3 separate regions of the Homo sapiens genome follow, and regions 1 and 2 are each linked to region 3. The links come from fine-mapping of genetic effects on gene expression. A gene starts in region 3. Each other region holds a variant in brackets. All regions are shown on one strand. Distances are between the middles of the regions.

The links. PIP is the estimated chance that this variant, and not a neighbour inherited with it, causes the effect. A credible set is the group of variants that fine-mapping cannot tell apart.
Region 1: its variant is the best candidate, but not a certain one, in a credible set for the expression of ADPRHL1 in sigmoid colon (GTEx, PIP 0.69).
Region 2: its variant is the best candidate, but not a certain one, in a credible set for the expression of ADPRHL1 in testis (GTEx, PIP 0.80).

What each region holds. Positions count from the first base shown.
Region 1 is chr13:113,411,631-113,419,332 of GRCh38, forward strand. The region is part of intron 7 of ADPRHL1 (ADP-ribosylhydrolase like 1); the gene reads right to left. Among named protein-coding and RNA genes, the nearest start is that of ADPRHL1, 38 kb to the right of the region's middle. RefSeq lists enhancers at 5,219-6,219, 6,220-7,220. The variant T/C (reference allele first, on the strand shown) is at 3,246.
Region 2 is chr13:113,400,782-113,408,483 of GRCh38, forward strand. ADPRHL1 (ADP-ribosylhydrolase like 1) reads right to left here. Exons shown (of 8, transcript NM_001394807.1): 8 at 1-7,439. The coding sequence ends at 2,597. Among named protein-coding and RNA genes, the nearest start is that of GRTP1, 41 kb to the left of the region's middle. RefSeq lists enhancers at 4,599-5,393, 6,511-7,196. The variant C/A (reference allele first, on the strand shown) is at 4,411.
Region 3 is chr13:113,449,915-113,457,616 of GRCh38, forward strand. It overlaps ADPRHL1 (ADP-ribosylhydrolase like 1), which reads right to left and starts at 3,574. Exons shown (of 8, transcript NM_001394807.1): 1 at 3,310-3,574. The coding sequence starts at 3,523. It overlaps DCUN1D2 (defective in cullin neddylation 1 domain containing 2), which reads right to left. Exons shown (of 7, transcript NM_001014283.2): 7 at 5,905-7,702. RefSeq lists enhancers at 1,606-2,107, 6,104-7,034.

The DNA.
Region 1 (7,702 bases), 38 kb before region 3:
AGATCAGGATGCTCTTCTGGGTTTATTGGCTGAGGATTAGGGGATTCGGCCAGAGCTACAAAGTCCTCTTTGGGGTGAGCCCCGCCTTGCTGAGGTGTCCTCAGCCATGGACCTGTGGCTGTCGGAGGCGTCCGCGGTTCAGGATGACGCCCTTGGCGGGAGCGAGAGGGGTTTCCACAGCCCCCTTCACAGAGCCTTTGTGTTTTGCAATCATCATTAACCAAGTTCCTCCCTGGGTCTGGCCTGGCCACTCCCCTGCTCCCTGCTGTCCTGCCATTCCCCTGGGCTGCCCCTTCTCGTCACAAAGTCCTGCGCCCACCGCCCACTATTGCGCTCACCCTCTCTGGTCCCCGCCCCTCGTGGTAGCCCCAGAGGTGCTGCTGTCTTTGGGTTCCTTGAACCTGCGGGTGGTTCCTTCTTCCGGGGTCTACTCCCGGCTCAGCATGTTCTGTGCTCTGGGTTTCACTGGTTGGGGGATTCTGGGAGCCCCCAGCTCAGCGTGTGCTGCTGCTGCTGGCACATCCCGGGTGACTACTGTCACAGCACTATAATTTGCTTTTTTTTTGGGACGGAGTCTTGCTCTGTCGCCCAGGCTGGACTGCAGTGGCGCGATCTCGACTCACTGCAAGCTCCGCCTCCCAGGTTCACAGCATTCTCCTGCCTCAGCCTCCCGAGTAGCTGGGACTACAGGCGCCCGCCACCACGCCCGGCTAATTTTTTGTATTTTTTAGTAGAGACGGGGTTTCACCATGTTAGCCAGGATGGTCTCGATCTCCTGACCTCGTGATCCGCCTGCCTCGGCCTCCCAAAGTGCTGGGATGACAGGCGTGAGCCACCGCGCCCAGCCACAGCTCTATAATTTTCTAAGATCCGAGTGCACTTTTCAACAAGTCACCCCTGTTTCTGCCCAGCTCCCCACTAGAGCAGAGCCCCTGCATGGGCGGGACCCCTGTTGGTTCTGGTCTCTACTTTCCCGAGTCCAGAGCAGCGTTGGGCACAGCCGGGCGGGCTGGCAGAAGACCCGTGGGTGGCGAACAGCCCCCGTGGAGGCTCGGTTCACCCACCGCCAACAGTGCCCCGGAGGCTCAGTTCACCCACCGCCAACAGTGCCCCGCGGAGCTCGGTTCACCCACCGCCAACAGCGCCCCGCAGAACTCGGTTCACCCACCGCCAACAGCACCCCGCAGAACTCGGTTCACCCACCGCCAACAGCGCCCCGCAGAGCTCGGTTCACCCACCGCCAACAGCGCCCCGCAGAGCTCGGTTCACCCACCGCCAACAGCACCCCGCAGAACTCGGTTCACCCACCGCCAACAGTGCCCCGCAGAGCTCGGTTCACCCACCGCCAACAGCGCCCCGCAGAGCTCGGTTCACCCACCGCCAACAGCGCCCCGCAGAGCTCGGTTCACCCACCGCCAACAGCGCCCCGCAGAGCTCGGTTCACCCACCGCCAACAGCGCCCCGCAGAGCTCGGTTCACCCACCGCCAACAGCTCCTCGCAGAGCTCGGTTCACCCACCGCCAACAGCGCCTCGCAGAACTCGGTTCACCCACTGCACAACCCTGTTTCTCTCCTGGCCACCCCCTTTTCTGCCAGCTCCAGCCTCCACCCTGTTTGTCCACTCCACGCCCAACCTCGCTGTGCCCTTCAGCCTGGAACAGCCTCGCTGCCTCCCTGACGAGCTCCTATTCATCCTTCACAACCCGGCTCAGATGCCCCCACCTCAGGGAGCCTTTCCCAGAGGCCCAGCTCTGTGAGCCCCACGGTGACCCACACAGACCTCTATGTCCCCACAAAGGGGAACAGCGTGGACGCCAGGAACGCCCCCAAGTCATGGACTGAGAGGGGGGCCCAGGACTTTCGGCGACTCCCGCGTGGGGCTCTGCGTGTCTCCCGAGGCGCCCTGTGATCGGGGCCTTCACTTGCTGTGAAGGTGGGCCTCTCGCCCTTTCCCACCCCTGCTGCACACCTTGCTGCTGAGTGAACGCGTCCTCATGCGCTGGAGCCAGTGCTGCCCCTTGGGCCGTCAGCCCCACCCCTCAAAGCCTCCTGAAAAGGCCCCCGGTCAGAGCTGCGCTGGCGGAGTCTGGGCTGCCCTGTGTGACCGCTGCCCGCCCAGCAGTGCGGGGCGAGACCGGGCCTCCCTCAGCGTCCCCTCAGCACTTGGACAAGCTGCAGAACCCACAGGGAATGGAATGTCTTCCTCCCAGGGGCCAATATAAACAGCAGGGTGCCCGGCTTTCCTAATTTAGTTGTTGGTGGCTCTGGCCAGCCAGAGAGGTCGTTTGAAAATACAATGAGACTAGAGGCCATCACAGCGCAGGAGACACACCCGGGCCCACCATGATATGGACAGCAGCCCCTGTTGGCAGGTTCTTTGCTGGGGACTTTCTGGCCAGCAGGGCCTGGAGGTCACTGTTCTGCCCAGTCAGTGGCTGTGCTGGGCTCACCCGAGCCTGGCCCTGCGGCAGGGAACACCCTCAGCCGCAGTTTCCTCCTCTGAGAGAAGGGCAGGGCCGGTTTCACGTGGCAGCTGGGCCTGCAACTGTCTGGCTGTTCCAGGAGCCTGCTCAGAACACGGACCAGCCTCAGCCATGTCACACACATCCCTGTGCCAGCCTCCACATGTTTCTGACAGGGACACTTGGATGCCCTCGGCCAACAGCGCTTAGAAAACATGTCCTGGGCCTCCATCAACACCAGAGGCCTGCACTGCCATTTCCTGCCCCTCTGCGGATGAGCCTGGAGCCGCCCCCCCTTCCTCCCCTTGGCAGATTGGCCCCCACCCTCCCTCCCTCAGTCCCCAGCCTCCCTGCCCTCTGCGGCTCAGCCCCCGGCTTCCCTCCCCTCTACAGCTCAGTCCCGGCCTCCCCGATATGCTCTCAGGGCACTACAGGCCTGTCTGGGGGCACACATCCTGGCTGTGGCTCCATCTGTGCCTGTGGAACTGCTCTTGTCGCTGTGGTGCCAATGCTCCTCTTCCAGGGGCAGGGCCACGTGCCTCTGCACATCTCCCTGAGTGTGCTGAGCAGGGGTCTTCTGTTTTCTGTTTTTTTTTTTTTTTAGATGGAGTCTTTCTCTGTCACTCAGGCTGGAGTGCAATGGCGTGATCTCGGCTCACTGCAAGCTCCGCCTCCCGGGTTCAAGCCATTCTCCTGCCTCAGCCTCCCAAGTAGCTGGGATTACAGGGGCCCGCCACCACGCCCAGCTAATTTTTGTATTTTTTTAGAGATGAGGTTTCACCA[T/C]GTTGGCTAGGCTGGTTTCGAACTCCTGACCTCATGATCCATGCCCCTCAGCCTCCCAAAGTGCTGGGATTACAGGCATGAGCCACCATGCCCAGCTCAGCCTCTTCTGTTTTTATGGCTGCTTGTTCTGTGCCCATTTTCCCCTGAAGCCATGAAGATCAGGGAGGGCGACACCTCCCTAGGTAGCCAGCGCCCAGCAACCCCCTGGGGCAGGTGAGGAGAGGGGAGGGGCCGTTTGGCAGCTGCGGTGGCAGAGTCCCTTCCACAGCTCATGGACAGAGACACTGGGGCTGCACCTTTGGGCTCCTGGGGTTCTTGCTGGTCAGCCTAGAGGGACGAGAGCCCTTCTGGAGACGCGGACCTGCCCGTGTCCGGGTGGGGCAGGGTGAGAAACGCCTGCCCGCGATGTGGTCCCCAAGCAGAGTGTGGACCTGGAAAGGGTTTAACCAAAGGCATTGAATAAGTGGCCTCCATGGCCCAGCTGCTCTACTGATGACAGGAAATGTTCTGCCCAGAGGCCAGCCAGGCGTGGGCTCAGTGGCCGGCTCCAGGCGACCAGGCAGGGTCCACCGAATTAGTGTTATAAAAAGAGAAGGGCTGGGTGCGGTGGCTCATGCCTGTAATCCCAGCACTTTGGGAGGCCGAGGCAGGCGGATCACGAGGTCAGGAGTTCGAGGCCAGTCTGGCCAACAGGGTGAAACCGCAACTCTACTAAAAACACAAAAATTAGCTGGGCACAGTGGTGTGTACCTGTAGTCCCAGCTACTCAGGAGGCTAAGGCAGGAGAATCACTTGAACCCAGGAAGCAGAGGTTGCAGTGAGCTGAGATCGTGCCACTTCACTCCAGCCTGGGTGACAGAGTGAGACTCCATCTCAAAAAAAAAAAAAAAAAAAAAGAGAGAGAGAGAGAAGCAAGCTCGCCTCCTTAGTAGTTTTTTTAAAATTGGTTTTAAATAACACAGATCCCTTTAATTTGAGGCTCCTAACATTTTACAAATAAATCTATACTTGATCTTAGCCCAAAGGCTGAGGAGAGATTACTAAAGAATCTAATATTAGATTTATGAAAAAGAAAATCTAACCCCAAGGGATGAGTATTTTCTAAAAATCCTGGAAGGCCAGGGGCCCGGCTGGGATCCCGTGGGGTGGCCGAGAGTGGCCCCCAGGCGGCGGCAGAGCTGATCTGGCCAATCCCCTCCCCAGCAGCTTCTGAGCATCATTGCAACGGTCACCGTCTATCTAGTAAAGCCGAGAACAAGTGTTTGCTAACTGCTCCCTGTTGATTTTTTGTAACTAGGTGGGGAATAGCTCAGACTGTACTAATGAATCAGCTGGAGAACCTGAGTATCTGTATTTCCTGGAAATAAATCTGGCTAATGGTCGATGTGGACTTTTGGGCTAGGATACCCCAAGGCCTTGACCTGAACATCTTTTTGTGACCTACATAAGATCTTATATGTGACTGACTTAGCTGGGACCCACAAAGGGGCGTCTGGTAAACCGGCAGTGACCAACGAAGGGATGTCTAGTCGGCCGGCTGTGACTGATAATGGGGACACTGTCCATCCCAGGCTGACTGAGGCCATAAGCGCTGGATGCTCTCCCAGGCCTGAGACATGAGTAAGTCAGCAGAGGGTTCCAGGGATGCTTGCCTGCCGCCTAATTACAGCAACTGCCTAGGGTCCCTCAGTACCTGTGGGACATACAGGGTATCGGGTTAGTGAGCTTCTGTCACCAATTTGTGCTACAAACATATAGATTATAAAGGAAACCGATGAAGCAGTAGGCACAATTTCTAACACATAATAAAAACACAATATAGTATATTATATTGCAACAGGATGCTGTTATGTTGGATAATAGCGTTATTGAAGGTTAAATTCCGATTTTGAATAAGCAAACAGTGGTTACAGAAGAGCCTGTCTTTTCTGAGGAATTTCATCTGAAATATTTATGGTGAGAGGATATAGGGTCGGCAGGTTATTCTCAAATGTTTCAGAAACAATTGTGTGTGCGTGCTCATATGTGCGAGGGTGTGCGTGCGAATGCACGAGTGTGTGCAGTGAGAGATGAGGGAAAATATTAACGGCTGCTGATCCTGGGCAAAGGGGCGTGGGAGTTGTCGGAGCTAGTTTTTTTGAAACAAACTTAAAAGTGAACCATTAAGATAGGAGAGAGAGACAGCAAAGCTGCGTCATGACAGGTGTCATTCAAGGACCGTGACAGCACAGACGGCTGCTGGGAGAGGCGATGCTTTGCGGAACCCCGGATGCACCAGCACCCCACTGGCAGGGCCCCGGGGACTCTGTGCTCTCTGGTTTCCTGGTGTGTGGGACAAGACAAGGCTGTCCCCCCAATCTGCAGGCTGGTCATGGTCCCCGCCGGCACCACCAGGGCCCCAGGTCGTGCAGCCTGTCTTGCCCGAGGGAGAGCCAGAGTGGGGGGTCCTGGGCGATTGCCCTTCTCAGGGTACAAGGAGGATGGGGAAGGCAGGGAGATGCTGCCCACAGGGCCACACGATGGTTCAGACCCTGGGGACCGCCCCTGTGGCCATCAGACAGAACGTTCGCGATGTGTGTGGTGCCAGACACAGAGTGCCCCAGATCAGGCGCAGTCCCTGCCTTTGTCTGTCTGTCCCAGATCAGGCGCGGTCCCTGCCTTTGTCTGTCTGTCCCAGATCAGGCGCTATCCCTGCCTTTGTCTGTCTCAGCCCTTGTTTGCTGACCAGCAGCCGCTGCTCGGGGTGTGGCACACGAATCCCGAGACGGTCTCAGGCTGTTCTTTGAGACTCATGTGAATGCTTTTCCCGCAACAGGCTAAGTGAGCTGATAACTTATTTCTGTGTGTTAACTGGAAATGCGTTTACACACCAGGGATTTTAACCAGGGAAGCTTCTGTGTGTTAACTGGAAATGCGTTTACACACGAGGGATTTTTACCAGGGGAGCTGCAGTGCCTGCACTGAGATTCCAGTTATTTCCAACCTAATGGGACCTTTGGAATGCATTTCAATGATGGAGTTTTTAAAGCACAGATGTTTGGATTGAACATCAGTTTGGGTATTACCAATTTTATCAGCTGATATTTTATTAATTTTTATACCCACAGCCAAAACAGGTGGCATTGGCTTCTGGCAGCTTGGGCCTGAGGTTATGCAATCGCCAGGGTTTGCTGAGGGCTGTGGTGGTGGTGAGGTCTTCCAGAATTAGGGGAAGGGGAGAAGGCTTGAGTGTGGTTTTCGGATGCGTCGGGTTTAAAAGCTACTCTGTGCTCATGAACTGCAGCTCTGGGAGAAATACTCAGACCCCCTGAATCTTAGTTTCCTTGTCTACAAAATGGGGGTAGTAAAAAGGGCCCCGCTTCTAGTGGAGCATGGAATAGACAGGGGAAATAACATTCAAATGCCACCTGCTGCATGGCTGGCCATTAGGGAGCCTGCAGCAGCATGGTTCTCGGTCTGACGGGGGCTGGGCTTCGCCACTTCCTCGGCTGGGTGCTCTGAGCGGCTGCCCTGCCCACTCAAGTCACCGAGCCTCCCTGGATCCGCTTCCTCCAACGTGGGAAAGGAAGGACAGCTCTGCCATGGCTTTCAGATATGAAAACACTGGACACAATAATTTTAAATATAAATGCAAAATCTCTAATCAAAGAGTTTGGGAAAACGGATTCATCTAAATCAGCCTGAAGTCTAAACATGTGTGTGTTACTGACATGCTCATATTCCCACATGGCACATGTTCCTAGTGTGTGACTTCTGTGTGGTGTGTTCATGAGGACACACATGTCCTTTCTCAGCCACGATTGGAACTCTCCATCCCAAGTCCTGGCTTCAGAGCTCACATCCGTGGGCCTGAGAGAAAGGTGTCTGCCAATAGCTTCAGGCTGAGAATGGGCATATTCTGGACCCCACCTTCCTCTGAAGCACCCTTGTCTGCCATCTGGGAGTGAGAGGCACTCATCCTCCTGCCTGCCCCTTCCTGGTGCCTGATGTCTTGCAAGAGATGCGGATCCACAGGGATGTGCAACACTGATGCTCCCAGAGAAGAACCCCTGGGGAGCTACACCTTGCTGGGCCTAAGAGGTTGTATAATGTGCCCTCTTTTCCTTCCCTCCCTCCCTCCCTCCCTTCCTCCCTCCCTTCCTTCCTTTCTTCCCCTTCCCCTCCCCTTCCCTTCCTTCTTCTCCTTCCTTCACTCCCTCCTTCCTTCCTTCTTCCCTCCCTCCCTTTCTTTTTTCTTTCTTTCTTTTTTTTTTCAGGGTCTTACTGTGTTACCCAGTCTGGAGTACAGTGATGTGATCTCACCTCACGGCAACCTCAACCTCTCAGGCTCTGGCAATCCTCCCACCTCAGTCTCCCAAGGAGCTGGGACTACAGGCGCCAACACCATACCCAGCTAATTTTTGTATTTTTTTTTTTTTTTTTGTAGAGATGGGGTTTTGCCATGTTGCCCAGGCTGG
Region 2 (7,702 bases), 49 kb before region 3:
GGACGGGCCAGTCGAGCAGGTGGCCTCCTGGCCGCTCACAGACTCTGCGCCCGCCAGACTGTGAGAGGGGTTCAGGCACGACACTTCCGGAGCTGTCATCTGGAGGAGATTCTCATCATTTTTTCCACCACTTAAAATAAAACCACTCAATGCCTTCTCCAGTGTACTCTCTGGTCTATTTAAAAATAGCAGCGCAAGTCCCACCACTTCTTATTTATAAAGGGAACAGCCAGTGAACATATTTTTACCTCCCGTGTCTGTCATCATGTTCTTGCCACTCATTGCCTCCAATTCCAAATAGGTAAAGAGTGAGGGCCGTGCCGCTGTGCCTGGAGTGGCAGGGGCAGCCACACAGACCTGGGGGTCCCTGAGCTCCCCCAGCTCCAGGGAGGACGCCCCAGGCATGAGCAGGGGCCGCCAACAGGACAAAGAGGCCACTCTGTCAGCCTCTGCTGGACCCCTGAGCTCCCCTCTCATGGGCCTCTCCGTTTGGGTGGCTCCGAGAGGCCAACTCCAGCCCCAACTGCAGGCTCCCAGGACTGCAGGGGCAGGGACTCTGGAGGTCCGTGTGCTTCGTGAGAGAGGGGACCCTGTCCTCCTAGCAGGGGTCCAGCGGCACCACAGCAAGACTTCTGTGGCCAAGTACACGCCATGCTCAGCTCTGCCCCCACCCGCACCCCCGGACCATCCTGTGTGCAGCTGGGCTGCCCCGGGACCCACACGCGCGAGGGGCACCCGGTGCTCAGGAGCCTCCACACACAGCAGCTCGCACTTAGAACCCACACGCCAAGCAGAAACCCCTCGAAGCGGGCTGGGAGCACGGACCCCTGATTTATAGAGGAGGCCCCGGGGGCCCTGTCGGGGGAGCTGTGGGGACCGGCCCCCCAGAGCTCAGCACAGCCCGGCCCTCCTTCCAGACACCAGCACTCGCATGTCCCAGCAGGTGAGGGTGGGTCAAACCTGCTGGATCTGAAGTTAATTGTTCGACTGGAAGGAAACCTGTGCGCTCCCCGGAGCATGACGCCACGCCGCCTCCTTGGCGCTGCAGAGCCAAAGCCACTGGCGTCTGCCGGGATGGACCTTCCCTGGAAGGAGAGACCTCAGCCCCGCGTGGGTAGGACGCGCCTGCTGAACGCCCTCTCAGGGCCGACACTGGAAAACACCTTCCTCTAAAGGAACATCCGAGTCAGAAAACAGGTGCTCGCAGCAGGCACCAAAGCGCCTTTGCGAACGCTTAGGGCTGTTTCAGGAAACCGCTCAGTAGCAAAGGCAGAAGATGCCAAGACACCTTCAAAAAGCAGGAATTAACTTTCCACAGGGAGGGCACCACCAAAAACAAGGGTGCGGGGCTGTAGGGCGACAGGCTGCATCGGTTCACGCTGAAAATCCAGCTGCTCCGGGGCCACTCAGGCAGCCGTGTGGCCTCACGGGTCCGGGTTTCAGAGGCCACCGAGTGGCCTGGGACGATGGATCGCGACACGGAGGTGCATGGCTCCATCATGGGGAAGAATGTGCTTTAAAATAGGTGCATGGAGGAAGAGCCTAAAAAATAGTCCAGAGTAGCAACAAAAACCATCTCGAGGCAATGTGACCACAGGTGGCTTTGATTTCCTTCTTGTGCCTCTAGACAGCATTCAAATATTCCAGCCTGAACATGCATTACCTCAGTACCTGAACAGGGCCGGAGTCGTGGGCCGTCTCGGGCCAGGGCAGGAAACACTTCTATGCTGTTCGGGAGGACGGAGGACAGACAGCGAGGCTCTCAGGTCACCGGCACCAGTGGCACCACCCACAGGGACTGCAGGGAAGGGCGGGCAGGCTCCCGTTCGTTCTCCCAGCACCCAGTTTCCAGACGAAGCCTCCCTGGGATCCTGGCTTCCCACGGCTCTGCACTGTCCCTTTCTCAGAACTTAACGTGGGCATTTCCTGAGGCCTCTTCCTCCGGATGAGCTGGTTTCGGCCTGGGATCCCAGCGTCCCCACACCCTCTGGTGACCACCACATGGCCCAGCAGCCACACAGCACCCGGCACCCACCTGGGCGTCTGAGGCTGGAGGAAGCTCTGCCCTTTCTTTCGAGTCATGGGGGTGGGGCGGTGTGCATCACTTTGGGCCCATGGATGGTGGGTGCCATGCGGCCACGTCAGAGCAGGGCATGGTGGGGTGTGGGCAGGGAGCAGTGGGAGGTGGCCCTGTGAGAGCTGGGGAGGTGTCCCAAAGTGCCAGCATCCTGCAGATCGAAGGGGACGCACACACCGTGCCACTGCGGGAGGTGTGAGCTCCACGCTGCAGGCTGTGTGAGAGAGGGGTGAGCCGGCGCCCCCGAGTGAAGACACAAAGAATCCCGAGGGCCTGGTGAGGCCACAGGCCCGCACCTCCCACCCCCATGGCCTCGTGGCTCTGTGGGGTGACAGGAACCCGACCCACATGTAGCTCAATCCTCCCAAGGTCAGCTTGTGAAGAAGGGAAAGAAAATTATGGAAACAGGCGTCTCTGTAGGGGATGCTCCAAGACGCATTTGGAGGCAGGAAAATGCCTGAAGTCCCTCAATGGGCGGATGTCACAGTGCTGGGCGAGCCACGGTGTGTACTCGGGGCCTCACTTTGGGAGCTCAGACGTGTCGCTGGCCCTGACGCTCATTGGTCTGAAGGACAAATCGAAGGCCCTCTGGTCACGGAAGCTCTGGGCTTTGTACTTGGCCAGGTGCCTGGACCTCCCGCGACGCTCGGGCTCCGATGCCTCCATCCTGTCCTGCAGGGCCCTCTCAGCCCCAGGGTGGTCTGGGGACCCCTCCTGGGCCGGGGCCTGGGGAGTCCCGCAGCCCCCAGCCTCAGGCTTGGGCTCAGTTGGGCTCTTTCCCAGCCCCAGGGGAGAGGTGGCAATGCTCTTGCCCCTGAGGGGGCGGCTTCCTGGGGGTGGGTACCCGGCGCTGGGCTCCCCCAGGCCACTGCCCCCTGACTGTCCACCATCCCTGGGGGCTGGGCTTCTGGACCCCCCACTCCTGCCAGCAGCATCCACTCCCTCAGCTATGCCACTAATGGGCTGCTCCCAGGCCCGAGGCGCCATCCCACTTGTCAAGGCCTGTTCCCGACCCTGTTCCCAAGCCCGTTCCTGAGCCCCTTTCTGGGTCTGCCTCTGAGTCTCTATCTGGGTCTGCTCCCAGCCCTGATCCCGAGCCCGATCCCGAGCCCATTCCTGAGCCCCTTTCTGGGCCTGACCCTGAGCCTCTATGTGGGTCTGCTCCCGACCCTGTTCCTGAGCCCGTTCCTGAGCCCCTTTCTGGGCCTGTTCCCGAGCCCGTTCCTGAGCCCCTTTCTGGGCCTGTTCCCGAGCCCGTTCCTGAGCCCCTTTCTGGGCCTGTTCCCGAGCCCGCTCCTGAGCCCCTTTCTGGGCCTGTTCCCGAGCCCGTTCCTGAGCCCCTTTCTGGGCCTGTTCCCGAGCCCGTTCCTGAGCCCCTTTCTGGGCCTGTTCCCGAGCCCGTTCCTGAGCCCCCTTCTGGGCCTGACCCTGAGCCTCTATCTGGGTCTGCTCCTGAGCCTGTTCCTGGGCCCGTTCCTGAGCCCCTTTCTGGGCCTGACCCTGAACCCGTTCCTGAGCCCCTTTCTGGGTCTGTTCCTGAGCCCATTTCTGGGCCTTTATCTGGGTCTGCCACTGGGCCTGTCCCTGAGCCTCTTCCTGGGCCCATTTCTGAACCTCTCCTTGAACCTGTTTCTGGGCCTGTCCCTGAATCTGCCCCTGAGCCCATTTCTGGGCCTGTCCCTGAACCTGTCCCTGGGCCCCACCCTGAGCTGGTTCCTGTGCCTGCCCCTGGGCCTCTATCTGGGTCTGCCACTGGGCCTGTTCTTGAGCGTGTCCCTGAGCCTGTCCCTGGGCCCAATTCTGAAACTGTTTCTGGGCCTGTCCCTGACTGTGTCCCTGGGTCCCACCCTGAGCCTGTTCCTGTGCCTGCCCCTGGGCCTCTATCTGGGTCTGCCACTGGGCCTGTTCTTGAGCGTGTCCCTGAACCTGTCCCCGGTCCCATTCCTGAACCTGTTTCTGGGCCTGTCCTTGGGCTGCCGGGCTTCCCGGCCCCTCGGGCTCCCCTGGAGGCACAGCTGGGTTCCTGGCAGCCCTGGTGCCCTCTCCCCACGCCGTGCTCCGCCCCCGCTCCTCCCAGGGTCCCTGCAGATGCTGCTGACCTTGGTCACTGCGCTGGCAGGCGCCCCCAACCCCAATGGCCATCCCTTTGTCCCCGGCCAGATCCTGTGCCCACCATGTCTGAGGCTCTTTTGCTGGGTTCAGCACAACCTTCGAGCCCGACGGCGCCACCCTCTTCCCCGCATCCCCGGGCTGGGGGGTCTCCTCCTGTGCCTGGTGACTCTGTTGCCTCCCCAGGTCCGCCTGTGTCAGGGGACGCTCCTGGGATTCACCTG[C/A]CTGCGTCCTAGGCTCGGGGACACTGGCCCGGAGCTTTGCCTGTGTGTCACCAGCAGTAGGGGGCAGGTGTGCCTGTAGATGGGGAGGGCCCCGCTGGTGGGTGCCACCTACCCACCCCATGTCCACCTCCGCGGGAGGCACTGCGGGAAGCAGATGGTCAGGCTCCGCCCCACGGGGAAACCTGACGCCCTCCCTGCCCTTTGCCTGTGGGTTCTCAGGAGGCGACGGCGGGAGGCCAGGGCCATAGCTGGGGGACTCTGCCACGCTCCTTGCCTGTGGCCTAGGATGATCAGAAGCAGGAATTCCAGACTCTGTGCTGAAACCCAAAAGGTTTCCTTCCACAGCCACATCCTTTCTGCCTCCTACAGCTGCTGTATGTCTGCTGGCTGCTGATGTGTTTGAAATGTATAATCGGGCCGCCTCTGGGTGCCGGGCGAGGGCCGCAGCATCCTCCGGGTGGCGGGCGAGGGTCGCAATGTCCTCTGGGTGCTGGACGAGGGCCACGCCTCTCAGGAGGCTCCTCCCTGCTGCTCCACTCTTGGGCTCCAAGGATCCCCCAGGGGCCAGGAGGCCGTGGCTGTGAGGGTCTCGAGGGAGAGCCTCTCCTCTGGGGTGGCTTTCGGACAAGGCTCTGCTTCCCCACTGGCCCAGCGTCTCTGGCTCTCCCGCTGTGCGGTCTCCAGGGCTCTGGGTGCTGCCTGGCGCTGGTGCAGGCGTGGCGCGGCTCGCAACGCTCCCTGCAGCTGCCATCGCCCCACAGGCTTTCATACCTGGTTTGGGTGGTTCATTTAATGAGGACAGTGGGTTCTCGCGAACATCATGGCTGGTGATTTCCTCGGCAGCCTTCAGGGGCTGAGAAGACTCTATTAGCAGCGGCCTTCTGCATTCCTCCAGCGCACCGGGCACTGTCATGCCCATCGGGGTGACACCCTCAGGCCCCGTACGCCCCTTGGATGATGCCGCCAGTGACGTGGGGGCTCCTGTTGGGTTTCTCCCAGTCGGGGACGGCACTTGCTGGCTGCTGGAGGCATGGCTGGTGTTTCCCCTCAGAAGGTTTTGTGAGGCTGCAGGATCATTTGTTGCGGAGCCCTTCTTCTGCATTGATATTTCATTAGATTCCGGCAACGGATGCTTCACATCTCTGAGCTCAGAGGTCCTCTCTCCTGAAATATCGTCAGGATTCCTGGGACCGTGTGAATTCTCAAAGCTGCCTTTGTTTTCCTTCCCGCCAGCAGGATCTGTCTGGAGTCTCTGTGTCAGAAGTGTCTCTGGGACACTGTGGTCGGCGCCCACAGCCCCTCTTGCTGCTGCCAGACGCGGAGCTGCCCGTGGCCCCTGCGGCGAAGAGGCGCTGAGTCCCGCCTGCATCCCTGAAAGCTTGCTCAGTTCCACTGGGGCTCGGTGACCCCTTCTGTTCTCAGTCACGGTGGGAAATTCTGTGTGGGCATTTTCAACCACATTCTCTCCTCCACAAATACAAGGTTTGTTTTCACCACTTGACATATTTTGCAGCCTGGTGGGAGGGGCTGGCATTTCATGGACAACTGGAATTTGGACAGTTATCCGTGGAGGCTCCGTGGCAGGCTGTGTTCTCCGAGCAGCCTGGACCGATGGAGCGTTCAGGGGTGGGATGTGCTCCGGCACCTTCTGTTCTGGGAAATACTTCTGGGTGGCAAAGAGGGGGTCTCTCCCTGGGTCTGGGAAGCCTGCTCCTTCCCTTTCATCCTCTGAACTGCAAACAGTCATGGTGATTTCAGGGCCCTCCCCTGCACACTCGCCTGGGGGCCCAGGAGGCCACGTGAGCCTGGCTCCCCTCACCTCCTGGACGCCTCCTGCGGTGCTCTCTGCGGTGGGGTCTGCAGTCCCATCACCTCCGGCTGATCCGGTGCCCCAAGGGCTGGCCGGTCCCAGTGGGGATGATGCAGGCACAAGGCCAGGAAGGACTCCACCTGTGCAGGGAGCACAAGAGAAGGCCAGCGAGGGGACAGCGTGGCCGTCCCTCTGAGCCATCACCTGGGGTGTCACGGGCTTCGAGGGCCTTGGCTGTCTTTGGGGCTCCTCCTCCAGGGGCCCCTTTCCCACTGCTTTGTTCCCACTGGGCCCCGTCTCCCTGGCACTAGGGGGCACGCTGGCTTCTCCTCTGGGTGGACGCCTTGCCTCCGAGTGGCTGATTTTGGTGCAGTGGGACAGCCAGCTCCTGGGGCCACAGACGACGGTGGCGATGCTGAGGGCCGGCAGGGGCTCAGCCGTGCAGGCCAGAAAGCGGGCAGGGGGCATCTTGACGCAGGTGCTGGCCATGGTGGCCGTGTGCAGCACGCGCACCTCCGGCCGGTGCATCCTCTTCCTCTGCAGGTTCCTCTTCTTCCGCTCCTGCGTGTGCAGCCTCAGCGCACTGGCCTCGGAGCACAGGCAGCTGTTCTGCTCGAACTTCTCCCGCAGCTTGGACAGCACCGAGCTCTTGCCCATGATCTTCGGCAAGAGGCCCCTGGCGGCTTTGGGCCGCTCCACAGGGGGCTTCTCGCGTGCTTCTTTCTCCTTCGCCTCCTTCTCCTCGGCGGCCAAGAATATCTTCAGGATGTTTTTCACGGTGCTCTTCCCGGCCGGGTGGCCCCAGCGGGGCTTCTCGCTGAGGCAGGGCTTTGGGGCCGGCTCCTTGGTCTTCTCCAGGAGCTTGTTGATGGTGGCACCCACGAGGCCCCCACCCGGCCCCTGCTTGTCCTTGGAGATCAGCCGGCCCACCTCCCTGGTCCTCTTGAGGTAGCGCTCCCGGCCAGTGCCCAGGAACTTGGCCTGCAGGAGCTGGAAGCGCGTGGGCCGCTGGGTGGCCTCCTGGGTCTGGGGCTGGTGGCTGGGCCTGCTCCCCCCGGCCTCTGTCCCCGGGGGCCGGTCTGCGCGGCCCGTGACGTAGAGCAGCAGGCTGCTGAGGATGGAGTGGGCGGCCGGGTCACAGGCCAGCTTGCCCATCTTCTTCTTCAGGGTTTGGGCGTCCACAGACATGACGTCACTGCAGGTCTTGCTGCTCTTCCGGCTGCAGAGAAAAAGGAATCATCACCTACTTCATCATCATTTTTCTCCAAGATGACTCTATAGAACATTTATCATGGGGCAATCCCACCTTTTCAGGGGCCCCAAAAGTCTGGTAGGGAGAAAAAGAGATTAGGAGCCAGGAGCTGTGGCTTCTGGGCTGTCTCTGCTGTTAATTCGGGGTTGGCAGGGATGCCAAAGCTTTTCTGGGTCACTGTTTCCTGTTAAATGGCAGGAACTTCTGACACACGCTCCTCCTAAGGGCAT
Region 3 (7,702 bases):
GCTGTGTGGCACTGGGCAAGCGCCTGAACCTCTCTGTATGTCAATTTTTTCTCCTGTAAGATTGTGATAAAATCAGCCTCCACGGTGATGTGAGGAGCATGTGTGGAGGATAACATGCGTGAAGCAGCTGGAACAATGCCTGGTACAGAAGTGCTGTGGAGTCAGCACTCACCATTGTCGTTTTGTAGAGATGGAGTCTTGCTATGTTTCCTAGGCTGATCTAGAACTCCTGGGCTCAGGCAATCTGCCCACCGTGGCCTCCCACAATGCTGGGATTGCAGACGTGAGCCACTGTGCCCAGCCCTCACCATTGTTAACACAGCTTAAAGACCCCCTTCCATAGGCTACAATTTGTTATTTAAAGAACAAAGATAAACTTAAGTGAAATTTCGACTTTGATTTTTAGTGAGTTGAAAAAAATCTGCTTGCTTTGGTTTCTAGAGGGGTAAGCTGTAGGGACCAGCCCCACAGGGTCGGTGGGTCTCTCCCTGTGTGCAGTGACGAGAGAGTGTAGAAATAAAGACACAAGACAAGAGATAAGAGAAAAGGCAGCTGGGCCCGGGGGACCACTACTACCAATGCACGGAGACCGGTAGTGGCCCCGAATGTCTGGCTGCACTGTTATTTATTGGATACAAGGCAGAAGGGGCAGGGTAAAGAATGCGAGTCACCTCCAATGGTAGGTAAGGTCATGTGGGTCACGTGTCCACTGGACAGGGGGCCCTTCCCTGCCTGGCAGCCGAGGCAGAGAGGGAGAGGAGACAGAGAGAAAGACAGCTTATGCCATTATTTCTGCATATCAGGGACTATTAGTACTGATAGTACTAATTTTTCACTAATTTACTACTGCTATCTAGAAGGCAGAGCCAGGTGTACAGGATGGAACATGAAGGCAGACTAGGAGTGTGACCACTGAAGCACAGCATCACAGGGAGACGGTTAGGCCTCCGGATAACTGCGGGCGAGCCTGACTCATGTCAGGCCCTCCACAAGAGGTGGAAGAGCAGTCTTCTCTAAACTCCCCTGGGGAAAGGGAGACCCCCCCCCCCTTCCTGGTCTGCTAAGTAGCAGGTGTTGTTCCTTGCCACCTTTTGCTACTGCTGGACCACGATCCGCCTGGTAACGGGCGTCTTCCCAGACGCTGGCGTCACAGCTAGACCAAGGAGCCATCTGGTGGCCCTGTCCGGGCATAACAGAAGGCTCGCACTCTTGTCTTCTGGTCACACCTCACTATGTCCCCTCAGCTCCTATCTCTGTATGGCCTGGTTTTTCCTAGGCTATGATTATAGAGCGAGGATTATCATAATATTGGAATAAAAAGTAATTGCTACAAACTAATGATTAATGATATTCATATATAATCATATCTAAGATCTATATCTGGTATAACTATTCTTGTTTTATTATACTGGAACAGCTCGTGTCCTCTGTCTCTTGCCTCAGTGCCTGGGTGGCTTGCCGCCCACAGTAAGCAATTCCAGGGGTGATCTTGGATGCGTATTTTCTCATGACCCACAAACTAGACGCTGCAGCAGCACAGTGAACCCTCCCTTCCAGTCCACAGCTGAGGACCCTGAGAGCTTAGAGCAAACTTACTTCCTCCTTAAGAATAGCGCCCCATGGTGGCTCACGCCTGTCATCCCAGCACTTTGGGAAGCTGAGGTGGGTGGATCACTTGAGGTCAGGAGTTCGAGACCAGCCTGGACAACGTGGTGAAACCCCGTCTCTACTAAAAATACAAAAATCAGCCGGGCGTGGTGGTGGGCACCTGTAGCCCCAGCTACTCAGGAGGCTGAGGCAGGAGAATCACTTGAACCTGGGAGGTGGAGGTTGCAGTGAGCTGAGATCACGCCACTGCACTCCAGCCTGGGCGATGGAGAAAGACTCCGTCTCAAAAAACAAACAAAAAACAGTGCCCTAAACGTCCGTAACCCTTTTAACTGTGTGAATTTCGTGTCCTGTTGGGCCGATCTCCGTCGGTGCACTTTTGGAGTGTCCTGTGCCGCTGCCCTCCCTGCGGGCCTGGCAGGACCAGACCCACAGCCATGGACGCTGCCATTTACAAAACGCCCACCAAGTGCTACCAGAAATGGGACATGCAGAGCTGGTATGAGCGCACACACGGCATCAGACGCCCAGAGGAAGCCAAACTCAAGAGTGAGCTCCAGCCGTCTACGGTGAAAACAAGCCGGAGCTGTGTCCCACAGGTGTCTGTGTGTGGGGTGCACCTGTTCTGGGCTGCGGGGCACAAGCATGGGGTTGCTGGTCCTAAGGGCACACGAGTGGCCGCCTGGAAAACCAGAAGCAGGAGCTCCTGGACGCCAAGGCTGTGAACAGTCGGACGCCTCCCCGTCTCCAGCAAGCCGGGAGCCTTATCTTATCGCCGGCGCTTCAGCTCTCCCGTTATTTAGGGACCGGCCACAGGCTCGATGGCATTCCTCTGCTGTGAGCACAGAACTAAACTGGGCACGTCCATGGCAGATGAACAGAATGGTGGAGTGAACGCATAAGTGAGATTTCATTGACTTAGCTGCAGCCCTCAGATTTTAATTCTGCCATGATAAACAGCACCCACGGGGTTTTGAAGAGCAAATGCCTCGTAGGAAAGCTGGACTGCATGTCTGTGCACCTGCCATTTCCCTGAAATTCATGCAAAAGCTTGATCCTAAAATCAATTTGCTACTTAAAGGTATTTTAAGAAGCTTTGTCTCCAATCTCGTCCAATCAAGTTTATGTCATTTTCTTAGAACACATTTGTGTATGGGCAACTCTCCAAGCTGAACCATTTTGGGAGATGATATTCTAACTTTAATTCATTGGAATTTAGAACTAATCCCCAAACAGTATTAATGGGTTCACATTTCAAACTGGCTTATTTTACATCCCTTTGTAATGAATTCAGAACAAGAAGGCTTAATCTCTGCAGCGAGAAGTGAGCCCTCACCCTACTCCCACCAGCACGGCCGAGAGAGGCTTCACTGGCTTTAACTCTATTAGAAACAGAAGGTGCTAGGCCTAGTTAACGCTTTACAAATACAAGTGAAAAGTCACGTTTAAAAACTGAATCTTAATAACTGCAAAGTAAAGTAATACTGTCACCCTCAGAGAAACCACAGGAGAAACGTGATCTGCCGCATATCAAATTTGAGGGACACTCAGATTAAATTGCCACTTTTAGCAGCGGTATCAGGTAACACCATCCGCTGAAGGACCGCACTGCCTTCAAAGCTCTCGGAGGCTTACTGGGAGAACTCGAGCAGCCAGTGTTCCCTCCAGCCCGCACACCGGAGCGCGGTGGGCCCAGCCTACCTGTGGTGAGGGCCTCGGCGGTTGCGATGTGCATGATGGTGTTGTCACTCACGGGCCATTCTCCTGGCGAGAGTACGAGGTGGTCCAGGCCCCCGGAACGTTGCAGCTCCTCCTGGATCTTCATGCCTACAGTGCTGTTCTCCTTGCAGACATTTCTGTAGCCAAGAGCATCGCCGACGCTCCCCAGCAACATCGCAGCCTTAAATTTCTCCATCCCAGGAGGCAGCTCCTCTTCCCCAACAGCTGCGGAGCGTCCTGGCCTTTGTCTCCTCCTCAGCCCGCCTGACTTTTATAGTGGTCACTGTGTCACTGTCAGGAGCGTCCTCTGATGGCCAGGCGCTCCTTGTCTATCTCTGCAGGTGGCACCAATGAGAGGACCTTTCTGTCCCCCACGTGGGAGGTGTCAGTTTTCTTCTGCGTCTGGACAGGCACCAGCTCCTCAGCAGAGGAGCCTGCTAGCTTCTGCCGGCAGCCGCAGCACATTCAGAGCGTTGACAGAGCAGGGGCTCCTCTCGCTGTCCCTGGAAGGAGTGCGCACACTTCCCCGTGTGTGGCGTGGGGTGATGCGGGAGCAGATGTGTGCAGGCGTGCCTGTCACTGCCGCCCGCTGCGGGGCGTGCCCTCACCCCTCGGGCAACAACCCATCTGCTGTCTCTACAGTTCTGCCTTTCCTGGACATTTCAAATACAATGTGTGGCCTTCGGTGTCTGGCTTCCTTCACTCAACATAATGTTGAGATTAATCTGTGACATGCGGTTTTATCATTTAGAAAACTTTTCGATTATGAAATGTGTTTTTGATAGAAAACTTTTAAAAAATGCAGTGTAGAGGGAACAAAGTCTATCTAGCTCCTGTGTGAACAATGACGGTGTCTTCTCAGCATGCGGTGTTTAACGGCTCCCAAATAATTGGACTGCACTGAGGGGGAAAGTCGTCAGCAAACCGCAGGCTTCACTAGAACCTCCCATCCGGCCCTCGGTCAGCTCAGTGTATTTACATCATCCCTGCTAGCTCATGAAAAGAATATTAAAAAATATGGAGACGGGGGGTGAGGCAGAATGCACACAGCCAGGGTTCCTGGTTTGAAATAAATTAGGAAAACAGTCCATCTCCCGACCCCACCCCAGGACAGTTCTCCGCAGAGGCCGGGAGCCCAGCAGGGCTGTGTCTCTCCCGTCTCCTTCCTCGGGGCCTGGTTTCCATCAGACCCAGGGGAAGCAAAGAGTTACACCTGGACTGAAGAAATGCGTCTGATAAAAACTCTCGTAGTGTACAGCGAGACAGTAGGAAGCATTTAACCGCCTGGCGTTATATCAGCACTTGTTAAAACGGAGGATCTCAAGCAGTGAGTTCACCTCACCCTCCACTGTCTGCTGGTGGAGGCAGCCATCAGCACAGTCATGCCAGCTAGCATGATCCTGAGATTCAGAAACAAACTTCAAAACCAGCATGCAGGCCGGGCGCGGTGGCTCATGGCTGTAATCCCAGCACTTTGGGAGGCCGAGGCGGGCGGATCCCCTGAGCTCAGGATTTTGAGGCCAGCCTGACCAATATGATGAAACCCCGTCTCTACTAAAAATACAAAAATTAGCCGGGCATGGTGGTGGGCACCTGTAATCCCAGCTACTTGGGAGGCTGAGATAGGAGGATCACTTGAACCTAGGAGGCAGAGGTTGCAGTGAGCCGAGATCACGCCATTGCACTCCAGCCTGGGCAACAAGAGCAAAACTCTGTCTCAGAAACAAACAAACAAACAAACAAAACTCCAAAACAAAAAACAGCATGCACGCAGGGTCCCTATCCAAACAAGACAGACAGGAGGGGCGGCCCTTCGTTCAAACTCTCACCTGTTTTAGGCACAACTGCACTGTGGGGCCGAAGCGTGTGCTGCTGAGGGGATTAACACAGCCCGCTCGCTGAGCGCTTCAGTTCGCAGGCGGCGGAAACCTTTGCCAAGAGCACTAGCTGGCTCCCTCAGCAAACAGGACGGGATAAGGTTAGCTCGTTTATCCAACAAATATTTGCAGAGCCCCTACTTTGTACCTGAAACTGTGGACACAGCAACAAGGATCAGAAGAAAGTTTATTCTTGGCCCCAAGAAGCCTGAGGTCTAAAATGGATATAAACTTCAAGCGAAAATAACACAATGACATGTACAATGTCACTGAGAGGAGCTGGCGTTGTTGATTCCGGAACGCTGGCAGGTGCACCGTGAATCGGCAGGTAGCACATGATCCTCAGACCCCCGTGCTTGGCCGTTTGCCTCCGATAAGGGACGGTTTCCAGCAGTTTGTGCTGGCACACATGACCTCCTGCCCCGACACACTCCCGTAAATCCTGCCTATTGTGAGATCTCTCATTCCTCACATGAGCCACCCCATCAGGTGCACGGTGCACCGCTGAGAGGCAACGCAATGACAGAAGGTACCTGAGGACCTGGTTACCTGGCCAGGGCTGGCGGGCCACACACGGGGGCAGGGGCTTGCCCGCTGGTTGCTAGCTGGGGGCTGTTCTCTCATCCTGGGACAATGACGTGGATGCTGACACCTATAGGCAGACATCCCTGCAGCTGAGGAGAATCGAAAGGAAACCACGCCCGAGAAAAACCAATTTAATGCTTCTGTTCTCAGCATTTCACAGCATGCAGGACTCAAATGGATACAACAGAAGAAAAAAACCCACAATTTTTGGAAAAGCCTTTGTCCAATGATTAATATTTTGATATCTATTGACAATCCCTTAGAACTTTAAATCTCAAAAACAAAAAAGTACTGTGGATCTCCATAGTTTATACAGAATTATGTGAATTCTATAAACTTTTCTGAACAAAACAATTACATGTCAAGAATCCATGAAGCCTGGAAGATACGCTCACGTTTTTGAGGTTTGTATTAATGCCAGTTTTTATTGTATTAGACAAATGCTCTCTGAGAATCGAAGACTTCTAAAGGTAGACAGGCCCAGTTTCCCATTAGAGTTCTGGAAGCAGAGCCTGGGGAAGGTCTGTCACTTGCCCATCACTGGACCAGCCAGAAGCCAGCGGGGGCCAGGCGGGGTCTGCAGGCTGCAGGTCCCTTCCAGTCCTGTCCCTGCTGCCCTCTGTGACCATCTCTGCTAAGAAACATCGACAGTTCGTCCTGCAGCCTCCAAGCACACTAACCTCAGCCATCAGATGTTCCTGAAGCCCAGGGTAAGTCCTGTTCTCAGAAGCCAACCCAGCTGCTTGTCTGGGCCATGCTCTCTCACACCGCAGCTAGGTCATCTGCGGCGACTCTCCTCTGTGCTGGGCAGCAGCTCCAGCTGGTCCACGTCCTGCACAGTGCTGCAGGGGGGCAGCAAGGCACGCCTGTGACATGAGAGTCTCGGCACGTGAGGTAGGGTCAACAGTGATGTCCACAACTCAATACCAGCCCTCCACACCTCGGCAGCACTCGTGGGTCCTCCTCAACCAGGCGGACACGAGAAACAGATGATAACATGGTGCAAGGACAGACTTCAGCTCACCAATCAGATGAAGGTTTTGGGGTTGGGTTTTTTCAGACAACGATGTACATTTTAGCTTCCAAATGTGCACAGGGGCACAAAGGTCTGGATGCTGGGCACTACGGGTACCACAAGAGGATGGAAAGAACCAGCTCATTCGGTTTTATTGTATGTATGTATGTATTTATTTTGAGACAGAATCTCACTCTGTCGTCCAGGCTGGAGTGCAGTGGCGCGATCTCGACTCACTGTAACCTCCGTCTCCTGAGTTCAAGCGAATCTCCTGCCTCAGCCTCCTGAGTAGCTGGGATTACAGGCATGTGCCACCATGCCCGGCTAATTTTTGTATTTTTAGTAGAGACAGGGTTTCACCATGTTGGCCAGGCTGGTCTCAAACTCCTGACCTCAGGTGATCCACCTGCCTCGGCCTCCCAAAATGCTGGGATTACAGGTGTGAGCCACCACGCCCGGCCTTGATTTTAAAATCTATAATTCATCACTCATAAAATAAATGTTTTTCATGGAAAAATGTCTTTTTAAATGTAATTAAAATATATTTTAAAAAAACATACTTTATGAAGCTTCTCAGGCAGGTCAAATAATATTTAAGTAAGAGAGGCCCAGTGATATATAAACGGTGTGAGATAAACTCTGCTGGAATCGTGCCACGTGTGCCGTTGCTATGCAAAGCTACATGGGGATTGAGAACCATAAAATGATTTTCAGATGAATGTCTAGAGAAAATGAAAACAAAAATAGAGCTGGTAAATCTAGATATTTGGTAATTCAAAAAATATAAATCGTGAATTGCTGGCACCAATTTTAAAAAACATTAGACTCTACGACAAGATCCTCTCCCTTAGGGCACATTCTTAACAGCTTTGACGTGTATAAAAACGCAGCGCCCTGC